Regions from separate parts of the Homo sapiens genome. Here regions 1, 2 and 4 are each reported to be linked to region 3. The links are microRNA targets in miRTarBase. Many come from high-throughput screens and were not tested one by one. Region 3 holds a microRNA gene; each other region holds the end of a gene's coding sequence.
What was found. Region 3 holds the annotated microRNA hsa-miR-181b-5p (AACAUUCAUUGCUGUCGGUGGGU, at 2,121-2,143, opposite strand). A microRNA usually pairs through its seed, bases 2 to 8, with sites in the 3' UTR of a target mRNA and lowers its output. Matches are read on the target gene's strand: a 7mer-m8 pairs with bases 2 to 8, a 7mer-A1 pairs with bases 2 to 7 and ends in A, and an 8mer does both.

Region 1 (3,129 bases), not on the chromosome of region 3:
TGTAATGATTCGTGTGCAGTGCTGTTCTCACTCTGCTGCCTGCTGGGCTCTCTTCCAGTGGTCTACCATCACGGCAACAGTGCGACGGGCGGCCATTACACTACAGACGTCTTCCAGATCGGTCTGAATGGCTGGCTGCGCATCGATGACCAGACAGTCAAGGTGATCAACCAGTACCAGGTGGTGAAACCAACTGCTGAACGCACAGCCTACCTCCTGTATTACCGCCGAGTGGACCTGCTGTAAACCCTGTGTGCGCTGTGTGTGCGCCCAGTGCCCGCTTCGTAGGACACCACCTCACACTCACTTCCCGCCTCTCTTTAGTGGCTCTTTAGAGAGAAACTCTTTCTCCCTTTGCAAAAATGGGCTAGAATGAAAAGGAGATGCCTTGGGGTTCGTGCACAACACAGCTTCTGTTGACTCTAACTTCCAAATCAAAATCATTTGGTTGAAACAGACTGTTGCTTGATTTTAGAAAATACACAAAAACCCATATTTCTGAAATAATGCTGATTCCTGAGATAAGAAAGTGGATTTGATCCCCAGTCTCATTGCTTAGTAGAATAAATCCTGCACCAGCAACAACACTTGTAAATTTGTGAAAATGAATTTTATCTTTCCTTAAAAAAGAAATTTTTTAATCCATCACACTTTTCTTCCCTACCCTTTAGTTTTTGATAAATGATAAAAATGAGCCAGTTATCAAAGAAGAACTAGTTCTTACTTCAAAAGAAAAATAAACATAAAAAATAAGTTGCTGGTTCCTAACAGGAAAAATTTTAATAATTGTACTGAGAGAAACTGCTTACGTACACATTGCAGATCAAATATTTGGAGTTAAAATGTTAGTCTACATAGATGGGTGATTGTAACTTTATTGCCATTAAAAGATTTCAAATTGCATTCATGCTTCTGTGTACACATAATGAAAAATGGGCAAATAATGAAGATCTCTCCTTCAGTCTGCTCTGTTTAATTCTGCTGTCTGCTCTTCTCTAATGCTGCGTCCCTAATTGTACACAGTTTAGTGATATCTAGGAGTATAAAGTTGTCGCCCATCAATAAAAATCACAAAGTTGGTTTAAAGGTGTGTGCGTGTTTCTTTGAATGCGAATGCCTTTTCGGGTAACTGAAATTCATGGGGGCATGAGTTTGCCTGCAGAATTAAAATCTGCCCTTCGATCAGCTCGACGTGTTTGTGGAAGCTGAACCACCACTCAGGTTATGCTTGTTTAGTATTTTCAAATGGATTAGTGATTTGGGTACACGAAGTTTTTGACTCTTCGATTGGCAGAAAGGAGGAGGTTTTCTCCCCTTCCCCTCCTCATCCCTTGTTTCTATAGCCCACCGTTTTCAGTATCACCAAAATAGTTGCTGTAGGTCAAGGCTAAATGCTCTTCAGTTGAGTGCCACTGGGGCGGCTGAGCGGTGCCTCCAGACGCCACCCTCAGTAGTGGGAAGGAAGCCTTCTGAGACGGAAGACATGGAGAGAGGGATGTCACGTGCAAGGGTGCCCGTGCCCCGGCTTCTGGCCCTGTGTGGATGATTGTGGTGTCCTGAGATCTACAGAGAAGGGGTTTTAACGTGGTCTGAGCCTTTCTCTCAAGTTCTTGCTCTTACCATCTGGTATTTCTGATTGTAGCCTGGTGCCATCTGGGGTTCAGAGCTTCCTAAACTTTCTGTACAAGTGTTGTCCGTCTAACCTACTTACCCTTTGTAATTCTATTGTGATTTGCTTGGCTGAATTATAACTCATATTGAGAGGTGAAGCCAGCTGGACTTCCTGGGTCAAGTGGGGACTTGGAGAACTTTTCTGTCCTCTAAGAGGATGGTAAAATGCACCAATCAGCACTTTGTAGCTAGGATTGTAAAACGCACCAACCAGCACTCTGTAGCTAGCAAGAGGTTTGTAAAATGCACCAATCGGTTCTTAAAACGCACCAATCAGCAGGAGTCTAAAAGCAGCCAATCACAGGGAGGACTGAAAAAAGAGCACTCTGATAGGACAAAAACAGAACATGGGAGGGGACAAATAAGGGAATAAAAGCTGGCCGCCCCAGCCAGCAGTGGCAACCCGTTTGGGTCCCCTTCCACACTGGAAGCTTTGTTCTTTTGCTCTTCACAATAAATCTTGCTGCTGCTCATAGAAAGATGCAAGCTAGTGCTAGCGAGACAGCCTGCAAAACCCCTGTGTTGTTTTGGGCTGTTAACCATAGTCTGAGTGGCTTAGACAACAAACATTTATTTCTCACAGTTCTAGAGGCTAGAAGTCCAAGAGCAGATGCCAGCAGACCTGTCTGGGGAAGGCCTGCTTCTTGGCCTGGAGACAGCCGCTTGCTCACTATGTCTTCACAGGGCAGAGTGAACCCTGGTCTGTTTCTCTTACAAGGACACTCATCCCACTGTGGGCCTCCACCTTTGTGATTTCATCTATACCTAAAAGGCCCCACTTCCTAGTATTCCGCCGGGGGTTCAGGCTTCAAAGATGAATACTGGGGGCGACACAAACGGAGCCCATAACCTCATGCCGCCTGACTCCTGAGGCTGTATTCGTGATGAACGTGTGGCTGCCCAAGTTTTGTTTTGCTCAGGCAGGATCAGCACACACCCAGCCACAGACAGGGAAGCCCAGAGCAGGGCAGAATATGGTCCCTCAAGTGAATAATTGGCCCAGGGATACAGAATTAGGTGATTCTAGCAAATCCAGACATTTTCTAGGGTGCCAGTGAATTTTGGGTCTGTCCCTGTTAGCTGTTCTTGAGATTTTGCACTCAACTTGCGATGGTTAATACGGAGTGTCAACTTGATTGGATTGAAGGATGCAAAGTATTGTTTCTGGGTGTGTCTGTGAGGGTGTTGCCAAAGGAGATTAACATTTGTGTCAGTGGGCTGGGAAAGGCAGACCCACCCTCAATCTGGGTGGGCACCATCTAATCAGCTGCCAGCGTGGCCGGAATAAAAGCAGGCAGGAGAATGTGGAAAGACTAGACTAGTCTTGTGGCCTCCATCTTTCTCCTGTGCTGGATGCTTCCTGCCCTTGAACATCGGACTCCAAGTTCTTCCGTTTTGGGACTTGGATTAGCTTCCTTGCTCCTCAGCCTGCAGACGGCCTACTGTGGGACCCCTTCT
Region 2 (3,000 bases), not on the chromosome of region 3:
GTTGATGGGTGGGTAGGTGGACAGATGGGTGGGTGGATGGGTGGATGGATGGATGGATGGATCTACTTTGTCACCACTCTAGGGCAGGCTGTGTCACCCCTCCCTGGATTATTACAGCAACCCTCTTGTGCATCTCCTTGAACCACGCCGCTCACCCCCTCCTGATCATCCTCCATAAGTCCTCAGCACTGCCCTCTCCTACCAGACATCTAGTTGTCCTGTCCTCTGCCTGAAAGGCCTGACCCTCCTCTCTGTTCTATTCTTTGCCTGGTAAAATGTTTTTTGCCCTTTACTGTCCTCTGGGAAGCTCTCTCTGAGCATACCCTCCACCAGCTTTCTCTTTCCCTCCCAGCTCCTTCTGGGATCGCAAGGATCCTCGTATGCAAACCCACATATGCTCCAGTCTGCATGGTGAGCCCCACCCACACTCCCCACGAACAGCTCTGTTGCCACATTTCTGGCTTAGAGGTGTGCACACTCAGCACGGGGCCCGCTCTCAGGAGGGTGGCACAGGCCTGAGGCTGAGTGAGCCCTGGAAGTGGGCTTGGTGGTTGGGGAAGGGAATTCCAGTATCTGGTATCCAGAGCGTGGTCTAGAGGTAGGGATGTGGGCTGCAGGTGAACACATTCCCGGGCCCCACGGATTTCTGGCCTCAAGGGGAGGAGGAAGGGCCAGAATGGGAATGGGTGCATCTGAGTAAGGGTGGAGCTGAACCTGCTGCTGGGTATCACTTCTTAAACTTCTCAAGCCAAATGGCCTTACATGGCCACGCATGAGAGTGGGTCTTCCTCAGAGGGGACTGTTTCGGAGGAAAATGGTTACCTTTGACTGTCTTCTGCATTTTCTTAGGTCAGCCATCTTTCCTCTCTGTCTCTTTCTGTTTCTCTCTCTCTCTCTCTCGAGACAGGATCTTGCTGTCTCACCCAGGCTGGAGTGCAGTGGCGCAATCATAGCTCACTGCAGCCTCGAAATCCTGGGCTCAAGCGATCCTCCCACCTCAGCCTCCTGAGTAGCTGGGACCACAGGCATGCACCACCACCAATCTTGGGTAATTTTTTTTTTTTTTGTAGCTATATGGTACAAAGTGATTCTCCACTGGACAGCTATGTTGTCCAGGTGGGTCTCAAACTCCTGGCCTCATTGTTAAAGTACAAGCCAAACTTGGAGAAAGATCGATGCCCCAGAAGCCAGCAGCAGGGGCTTTTGGTTGGGCAACCTCTCAAATACACTGTGGGTGGTGGAGGTTCCCTGAAGCAGAGCCCTTATCCCCATCCAGGCCAGCGAGTTGAAGGCAGATTAAATCATACGAAGGAAGCTAAGACACAGTTTCCTTTAAAGGTTTTTCATTTATTAGTCATTTCTGAAGCAGTTAATTCTCTTTTCTTATTAAAAAAAAAGGTGTGTTTCATCCAGAGTTATATTAGAGTGATTAAAATGTTTTTTCTACTGGGGATACAGCTCCCCGGATCAGAAAAAAAAATTATCTTTTTTTTTCAATGAACCACAACAATAAAACCAAAAGAGAATATCAACAATCAAAAATAATCCCCAAATATCCAGGACAAAAAATAAAATATTTATTGATCTATCACAGCGAGACACAAAAAGATGGGCGGGGCAGGAATGGGAACTGCTCTGAAGTTCAGTGGACCGAGGGAGGGATGGGGGGTATACAGTACTGCATGTGGGGACACCCCGGGTGGGGAGGAGATGCCTGGCACCCCAGTCTGCACAGCCCCGCACGCCCTGGGGGAGTGTAGGATGGGGGTGGAGGCAGGGCACAGGCGGCCATGACAGGTCAACCAGGTTGATGGTGGGTGCACCCAGCCAGCTAGTGGTGCCGGGCGGTCAACTGGGGACATGGATGGACGGACCGATGGATGAATGGACGGATGGGCGGATGGATTCTACAAGGGCAAGGTGGCTATTCCCAGTGTGGGGTGGTTTTCCAACCCAAAAGCGCCCCAGATGTGGGGAACAGCGATCGGTGGGGAGGAGACGGCCAAGTGGACCCAGGAGAGGAGGGATGCTAGAGCGAATCCAGCTTTGAGGCTTCAGGTGCTTGGGTACCAACTGGATGGCAGCCAACGGTGGGTCCTGGTGGGCAGGGGGAGCTGGGACTGCCCAGGAAGTGTCTGCACCATCTTTAGAGGAGCCCCAGGTAGGGGGTTCCCCGAGGGGCCACCCTTCCCTCCTCCCTCCCCCCAGGAAGATAAGAGCACCAGCGTGTAGCACCAAGTTCCCCTGGAGATGGAGGCTGTGTGGAGGGGGAGCTCCTAGGTGGGAAGGGATGGGGTGGGGGGCCAGGACCACATGGCCCTTGCCTCTGAAGTAGGGGGCCTCCTGGTCGGGGCACTTGGCCGCTCCCCTCTTGTTTCCTTGCCCTGTGGATCTGCAAGGCCGCCCGGCCTGCCCGTTCCCTCCTGGGGTGGGGAGTCGGAGGGGCATGGGATGGGGTTACAAAGGGTTTACATTCTCCACCAAGCAGTAGCACCAACGTTGATGAGGTCGTGAGTCAGGGGTCCTAGGAAGCTCATTTTCTCTTCCGGCCACAAGCTTTCCCCAGGCAGGCCCCACCTGGACGGGAGGAGGTGCACATCACTGTGAGTCCGGCCCCTCTCAGTTTCGGCTCTAATCCCCGCCTGCTCTGACCCACTCGAATGGAGGCTCCAAGAAGCCAAGAGAAGCCAAGTCATGGCCCCAGGCCAAACTCAGACCTGATCCATGCCATCAACTTCCACTGGACAGATGGGGCGGGAGAAGCCCCCAAGATATTACTTGGATGAAACCAACGCTCGCAGAAAAGGGGGCAGGTCATGGGGCCTGGCTGGGGAAGGACGGGGCCTGGCACTGGCTCCTGGCTCCACTGCTCCAAGAAGCCTTTCGGGGAAAGGCTAAGAGCAGCTCCATCAAGGAACATGGGATGAAGGGAGAGTCAGTGTCTGCAGGAGACGGCCCTCTCAGGGAGTGGGGTGGACCCATACATCTGAGAGGGCATCA
Region 3 (3,158 bases):
TCTGAGCAGATGTAAACATCATTCACGTGCCTGAGATTCCTTCAAAGATTGTGAGACAAGAGAAGAGAAAAAAAGCCATAAAGTTAAGAATGGGTCTCAGAAGGATACTGGCATTGGGAGTTCAAGCAGATGAAGAGCTTCTTAAAAATAAATAAATAAATAGGACATCACTGTAATAAAGAGAGAAATCCAAATGAGAGTAGGATCACAAAAGTGAATGGGGACTGGAGTTTAGGAAGAAGTGGTCAGCTGTGTCAGGCATCAAGGGGAGTTCGAGTAGGACAACTGGCAGAAAAGTTTGATTTGTATTTGGCAATATGGAGCTCACTGGTGATTTGGGGAAAAGCAGTGTCATTAGAATGATGTTATGCACAAGTGGGAGAGAGAAATGGTAGAAGATGCCAAATTACATATAGTTGAGGTGAAATGGGAAGTAAACAAATATAGACAGTGCTGCAGGCTACTATGTACTATTTCTAAAATCTTAGCTTTTAAAAAGAAGAAAAGAAGTGGGGTAAGTAACTTGAGGATAAAGCAAGTATAGAGAAGTTTTTCTCAAATTTCTTTTGTTTTCTATTTGAGAAGAGAGAAAACTGAACCTTGTTACATGTGAAATGGAGCCAGATGGTGAGAGAGGAGGGGGATATCACAGGGGAAGAGATGTCCCAAGCAAGGCAGGAGGCTCACGTGAGACAACTCAGGGCAGAATCCTACGCATTCATAGGCTATAAACAAGGAAGTGGAGGGAATAATCACATGGACTCAAGCTTCTCAATGAAAAACAGAAGTCAGTTCATCTGTTGAGAGTGGAATCGTGGAAAGGAGCAGTTGAGGAAAGAGGTAAACATTTAGGCTAAACATGAGGGAGTGGAGTAGAAGAAATGCTGGGTCAGAGTTGAGGGACTGAGGCACTTGGAGGCCCCTGAGTATGTGTATTAATGTGTCCATATGATGATGTGATTTTATTTTTCAGCAACACTGATATTGAAAGGACAGTTGCCTTGGAGATAAGAGAATGAGAAACTAGAATGGTAAGAAGTGATAGACAGAGTGGGATATTAGATATCGAATGTGGTAAAATATTTTAAGGTTATGATGAGGTCAAGAGCCGGGTCCCAGCAATGGGTTTCTGTAATGGGAGTTAAAGGCAAATGGGATTTAAAAGATCAAGGAAAAGAAAGGATAATTTATTTGACCATTAAAAAAAAATGAACATTGAAGCCATCCAGGTACTCCAAACATAGACACTTGAGAAAGCATTTTATTTTGCTATATAATTATTATCATTACAAATGGTAAACTTAAAACTGCTGTGATCAAATTTAATGACAGATGTCCTATATAAAAATGCAGAGGCAAACCACTTAAGAAAAACCATGATATGCATAGGCTTTTACTTGCAAAGTCAGATGAGTAAACATGAGGCAATTAATGGGCCATGACTGTAAGTCTAACCACGCAGTTCATGCACATAGAAAGTGGGTAAAGTTTTAAAGTGGAAATTGAATTGGGAAAATCAATCTACTATATGACTGTCATGAGTGTTCTGATAGTTATATAGTTATGTATATATTATTTTCTTCGTATTTAGCATGTTACATAGCAAGAGGCAGAATTATATGAGCAAATCCTCACCCAGAGAAGCAGAAAGCTAAAATTATCTGGTGTTTCTATCCCACTTTGACCAGAACATCTAACAAAAGTTGTAAAGAACACATATTTGTAAGTGTGTTATTGTCAATGGCATGGGTGCTGAGGTCCTACTTTATGTCTTTTTTTCACTCACACTACAACAGTAGGAAGGTGAGCTAACCTAGATGATGATACTGTACGTTTGATGGACAAAATAGTTTTGCCTTTTCTAAAACATGCTCTGTTTATAGCATACAAAAGATAGAGAAGCATTATTCTTGTTTAAACCAGAGTCTTTTTCATTGAAATCTCATCACATGATATAAATTGAATAAATAAACCAGAAGATGCTGACGAATTGGAAAACTTAAAGAACAATAGTACTATTTTGAACACATCTTTCAAAGATGGAATATCTGTTGATTGTGACAGCAAAAAGCGGGGCCACAGTTGCATTCATTGTTCAGTGAGCTTGTCCACACAGTTCAACCCACCGACAGCAATGAATGTTGATTGTGACCTTTTAAAAAATAATCTCTGCACAGGGAAGAGAAAGTCCTGGTGTGTCCACCTTTGGTTTCCTGTCTTCAGCGAATTCTGAGCACCATGGAGTAGATGATGGTTAGCCATAGGGTACAATCAACGGTCGATGGTTTTGATTTTAATTCCAAACTCACCGACAGCGTTGAATGTTCACTGAAGCAACCTCAAAACTCAGAATTCTACTCACTTTACAGTATCTGTAAGTATCTGAAGGGGATGGGAGACAGAAACAACAGTACCTTTAGTCATATATTTTATGCATTTTTATGCCATTTCAAAAGACTACAAAAGAAGACAAATAAGAAGCATGATTCTTCCAACAAAGAGTTTGGCAAACCTCCACATCACATTGTATGAGAGAAAAGGATCGGTTTCATTAAGCAAAAACATGGCCGATATTGGGCTAGTTCCAGAGATGGAATTATCTCACTGTTAAAGACAGGGACAATTTGTTATTCAAAGTACTTTGTGGTATAAAATCCAAACAATATCTTATAATTTAAATATTGTTACGCTTATAGTAAGCAAGCATTATGTATATAGCTTATACAGAAATTAAACAGAATTACCTTAGATTTCCTCAAATTGGCATTGATGATATCATTTATATTTACATTATATATTTACTATATTTTATTCTAAAATAAGGTTTTAAAATTAGTATAACTTCCTAAGAACAATCTTATTTAGAAAATGCTGAACAAATTATAAGTGAAGAAACCAGCTCAATACATTTTTCTTAGTTTATGGCACAAAGAGTTCATGAATACAGTGAAAGGTAAATACAATCTATGTATGCTACAAAACCGTTCATTTCCTATTATTTTAAATAACATCTAACATCTAACATCTCTTTATGGGTAGATGGGTGAGGGATTCTTTTCATAGTCTTATTTTCTAAGACTGTTTTATCATTAATGCTTATTTTAAAATTATTATGAACTCTACTGAATTTATTTTTAGAGCCATTTTCAATAATTTTC
Region 4 (3,153 bases), not on the chromosome of region 3:
ATCCTTCCAGACTGGCTGAGAGAGAGATTTTTTGGTGAACCTGTTTCAGTTAAATGTGACATGGGCAATAATGAAAAATTGGGTGAAATGTTTTTAGGAGGCAGAAATTTTGAAGCTGCCCCAGATTTCACACCATCGGTCTTTGATTTCTCTGCGCAGTTAGATTCCAGTCCCCAGTCTCTAGATTGCATTGGTCCAGTAAGGGGCAGCCTTAGTCCAGACCAAAAAAAAAAGCTGTATGGGTCCAGTGGGTCCAGAATATCAGTGATCCAGGTTCCGATTCCCCCAGCTGCACTGAGTGAGATTGAATGTCAGTGATCCAGGCTCCGATTCCCCCAGCTGCACTGAATGAGATTGAATATCAGTGATCCAGGCTCCGATTCCCCCAGCTGCACTGAATGAGATTGATGGAATCTTTCTTTTTAGGAGTGGAAGTATTATCCACTTCATGGGAGGAGCAACGAGCATCTCATGAAACTCTGTTCTGTACGAAGCCCTTGCATCAAGTGTTTGCCTCATTTACAAGAAAAGGAGAAAAGTTGGATATGAGTCTGGTCTCCTAATAGATTGTTTTCACTGCACTGGGAGCACATCAGAGGTAAGTAACCAGTACTGAAGACAGTACCAGGTGGGTAGTACTGTCTGATGAAGGGTACATCACCCTTCTGATGAAAACAGACACCTACCTGTTCATCTGGATGGAAGAGCAGGTTTGAGTATAGACACTGGCATTTTTGAACAATTCCCATGATCACCTGGTCCCTTCTTAAAATGCTCAAGATGTTTTTTAAAGGTATTAGTTGATCATACATTTTAGTTGAAAATCATTTGTGGGGCAATAAAAGCCATTTTTTGAAAAAGGTGTATCACTCAAGAAGTACTTATGGAAAAATATCAAATTATTGAGGGCATTAACTCTGGGAAAGACCAGGCAATTAAGTTGTCACAGTAACTGCTACTAATTTAATGCCAGGAATAGAGATGCCAAAAATCCTAAAATTTTCAGAAAGGGCTCTCACAGAAATGTAGCACTCCACTCAAACTGCAATAGCTTGATTCTGTTGAGAAACACTGATCTAAATAAATGGAAAAATAACCCACATTCACTAATGAAGATAATAAGGAAGACCCAATATTTTTTTTTTTTTAAAAGGAAAGTATTTTTAGCTTTTATGAAAGCTTTAAGTAATTTTTCCTCATTTTCCTGTTTGAAACTTTTGAAAAGGAAGTTCTTCAGTGTTTGTTTGGTTAGGCGCAGTGTATTCTAGGCCACTGCTTTATAAATATGGTGTGAGAAAGCAGTAGGATAAAATAATCAGAGTTCAGTGTGTCTCATATTTTGTTTCCTAAAAGTTTAGTAGAGCTGTGAATGTACTAGGAAGTCCCCTCTGAAAAAGCACAGTTAGTTAGTTAGAAATCTGCCCATTAACTCAGGGGGACTCAGGCGCCCCCCGGGTCTTCCCTCTCCTGCAGGCTCTCCGGTTAGTGTCCTGATTTGCCGTAACCACGGGCCTCTGACCTGCTGGCACCTCTGGTTCCTTGGCGTGTGGGTCACTCACAGATATGAAAACCTGTGTCTGGCTGACCAGGTTCTCCTGTAGCCCTCCCTTGCCCAGGCACAGATAGGAGTCATGACTGGCCCAAGGCCACGTTCAGACTTAACCCTGCAATGGCCACGAAGTAACCTCCGTGTGGGAGAGCTCCAGGAACAGTGCAGGGGATTAAAGCCAGCTTGGAGTACCCTTTAGAAGAAAGTTTAAGAATAAAAGAGACAGGGCCAGGCAGCAGGCGTTCCGGGGTACAGTGAGCTATGATGAGACCTTCAAGCTCTTGCCTTCCAGGCCTGTGGTGGGGACCAGTGGCATGAGTCAGCAAAGTACCAGCACTCCTCAGATAAGTGATATTAACAGAATTTCCACAATCACTTTCAAGTTGAATAAAGCTTTTAATAAAACAGTCTTGTTCTTTATCAATACCTGTAAATTCTCTTAAAGCAGTAGCAAAGGCGACTGTAGCAAGAGCTCAAAAGGCAAGGCAATATCGGAAAGTGTATTTAACAGAAGATTAAAAATATAAATGTAGAAGATCTGTTTATATATTTTTCTTTCAGAAATAAATCCCCCCTCCCCTGCCAGGTGAAAGGAAATATTGCACTTTCTGTTCTCATGACTAAGGGGACAGGAGTTCCAGAAGAACCTTTCAAGATGATCAGGAACACCAGGACGAGGGCCGTCTCACCTCACTCGGACCACATGGAGACCTCCCTTCAAAATGGGAGCCATGTCCTGCCCCACCAAGCCCTGTCTGAAGTGGAGCTTCCCCGCCTGTGCTCCCTCCACAGTCCCGGAAAGCCCAGCGGCAAAGGCAGCTTTGTCCCAGCTCTGCCACCCTCCTGCTCACAGTGGTCAGGGCCCCTCAGGGGCAAGGACGGCAGGGATTGGAACGAGGGCTCTGGAAGGACTGTTCAGCCCTATGCCTAAGACCCCTATGCTGGGGACACTACAGGCACACACAGGAATAGCAGGGCCACCCTCAGAGCTCACACATCCACGAACAAATGAAGGCTGAGGAGGTTTCTAAACCTAAAGTCCATGAGTGTGCACTTCAATCCAGGAAGGTCGGGACTTCCTTCAGTTTCAAAAAATAAATTCTCCCTTCCGGTTTGGACTGTTGCAGGCTCGAGGCCATTCAGGAGTTGTCCACCACCTGGTGGGGCAGTGTGACAGAGGGGCCATTGGGGAAGGTGGCTAGCTTATCCCGCCCCTTCAAGAAGAAGGTCAGCAGCTCCCCCTTCCCCTTCACAAAGATGGGGCCTCGCCTCACAAAGCGGAAGCCGTACTCTCGGAGGATGACTTGGGTTTCTTCTACCACCTGGAGAGGGAGGGGGAGCAAGAACGTGGCGTTACGGGGGGAGCCTAGACTGAGGGCGGGTGGGGGCTTTGGGTGGTTGGAGCCGAGCACTGATCCATGGGTCCCAAGCAGTACGGGACACTCCCCAAACCTCCCAGGGCCAAGCCCTTCCACCCGTGGCGAGCAGCGGGTGGGAAGGAGAACCCTGGAGTGACTGGCTGGGGGCCTCCTCTCATCCAGAGACTTCTCTCCTAGGATGGCCATGGTCACCTGGGTGGCAGCACTGTTACCTGGAAACTGCCA

Region 1: the mRNA of USP10 is a reported target of hsa-miR-181b-5p. The part of its 3' UTR that is shown has no 7-base or 8-base seed match.
Region 2: the mRNA of ELN is a reported target of hsa-miR-181b-5p. Seed matches in the 3' UTR shown: 7mer-A1 at 2,470-2,476.
Region 4: miRTarBase lists CENPO as a target of hsa-miR-181b-5p. The part of its 3' UTR that is shown has no 7-base or 8-base seed match.

What each region holds. Positions count from the first base shown.
Region 1 is chr16:84,778,837-84,781,965 of GRCh38, forward strand. It overlaps USP10 (ubiquitin specific peptidase 10), which reads left to right. Exons shown (of 14, transcript NM_005153.3): 14 at 59-1,086. The coding sequence ends at 246. It also overlaps a transcript of LOC105371378 not described here. Among named protein-coding and RNA genes, the nearest start is that of CRISPLD2, 40 kb to the right of the region's middle.
Region 2 is chr7:74,068,234-74,071,233 of GRCh38, reverse strand. It overlaps ELN (elastin), which reads right to left. Exons shown (of 33, transcript NM_000501.4): 33 at 1,327-2,577. The coding sequence ends at 2,534. Among named protein-coding and RNA genes, the nearest start is that of ELN-AS1, 7.5 kb to the right of the region's middle.
Region 3 is chr1:198,856,805-198,859,962 of GRCh38, forward strand. It overlaps MIR181B1 (microRNA 181b-1), which reads right to left and starts at 2,178; the gene lies at 2,069-2,178. All of the region lies in intron 2 of MIR181A1HG (MIR181A1 host gene), which reads right to left. It overlaps MIR181A1 (microRNA 181a-1), which reads right to left and starts at 2,349; the gene lies at 2,240-2,349.
Region 4 is chr2:24,817,244-24,820,396 of GRCh38, forward strand. CENPO (centromere protein O) reads left to right here. Exons shown (of 8, transcript NM_001322101.2): 7 at 427-598; 8 at 2,111-3,153. The coding sequence ends at 563. ADCY3 (adenylate cyclase 3) reads right to left here. Exons shown (of 22, transcript NM_004036.5): 22 at 1,926-2,871. The coding sequence ends at 2,689. Among named protein-coding and RNA genes, the nearest start is that of CENPO, 25 kb to the left of the region's middle.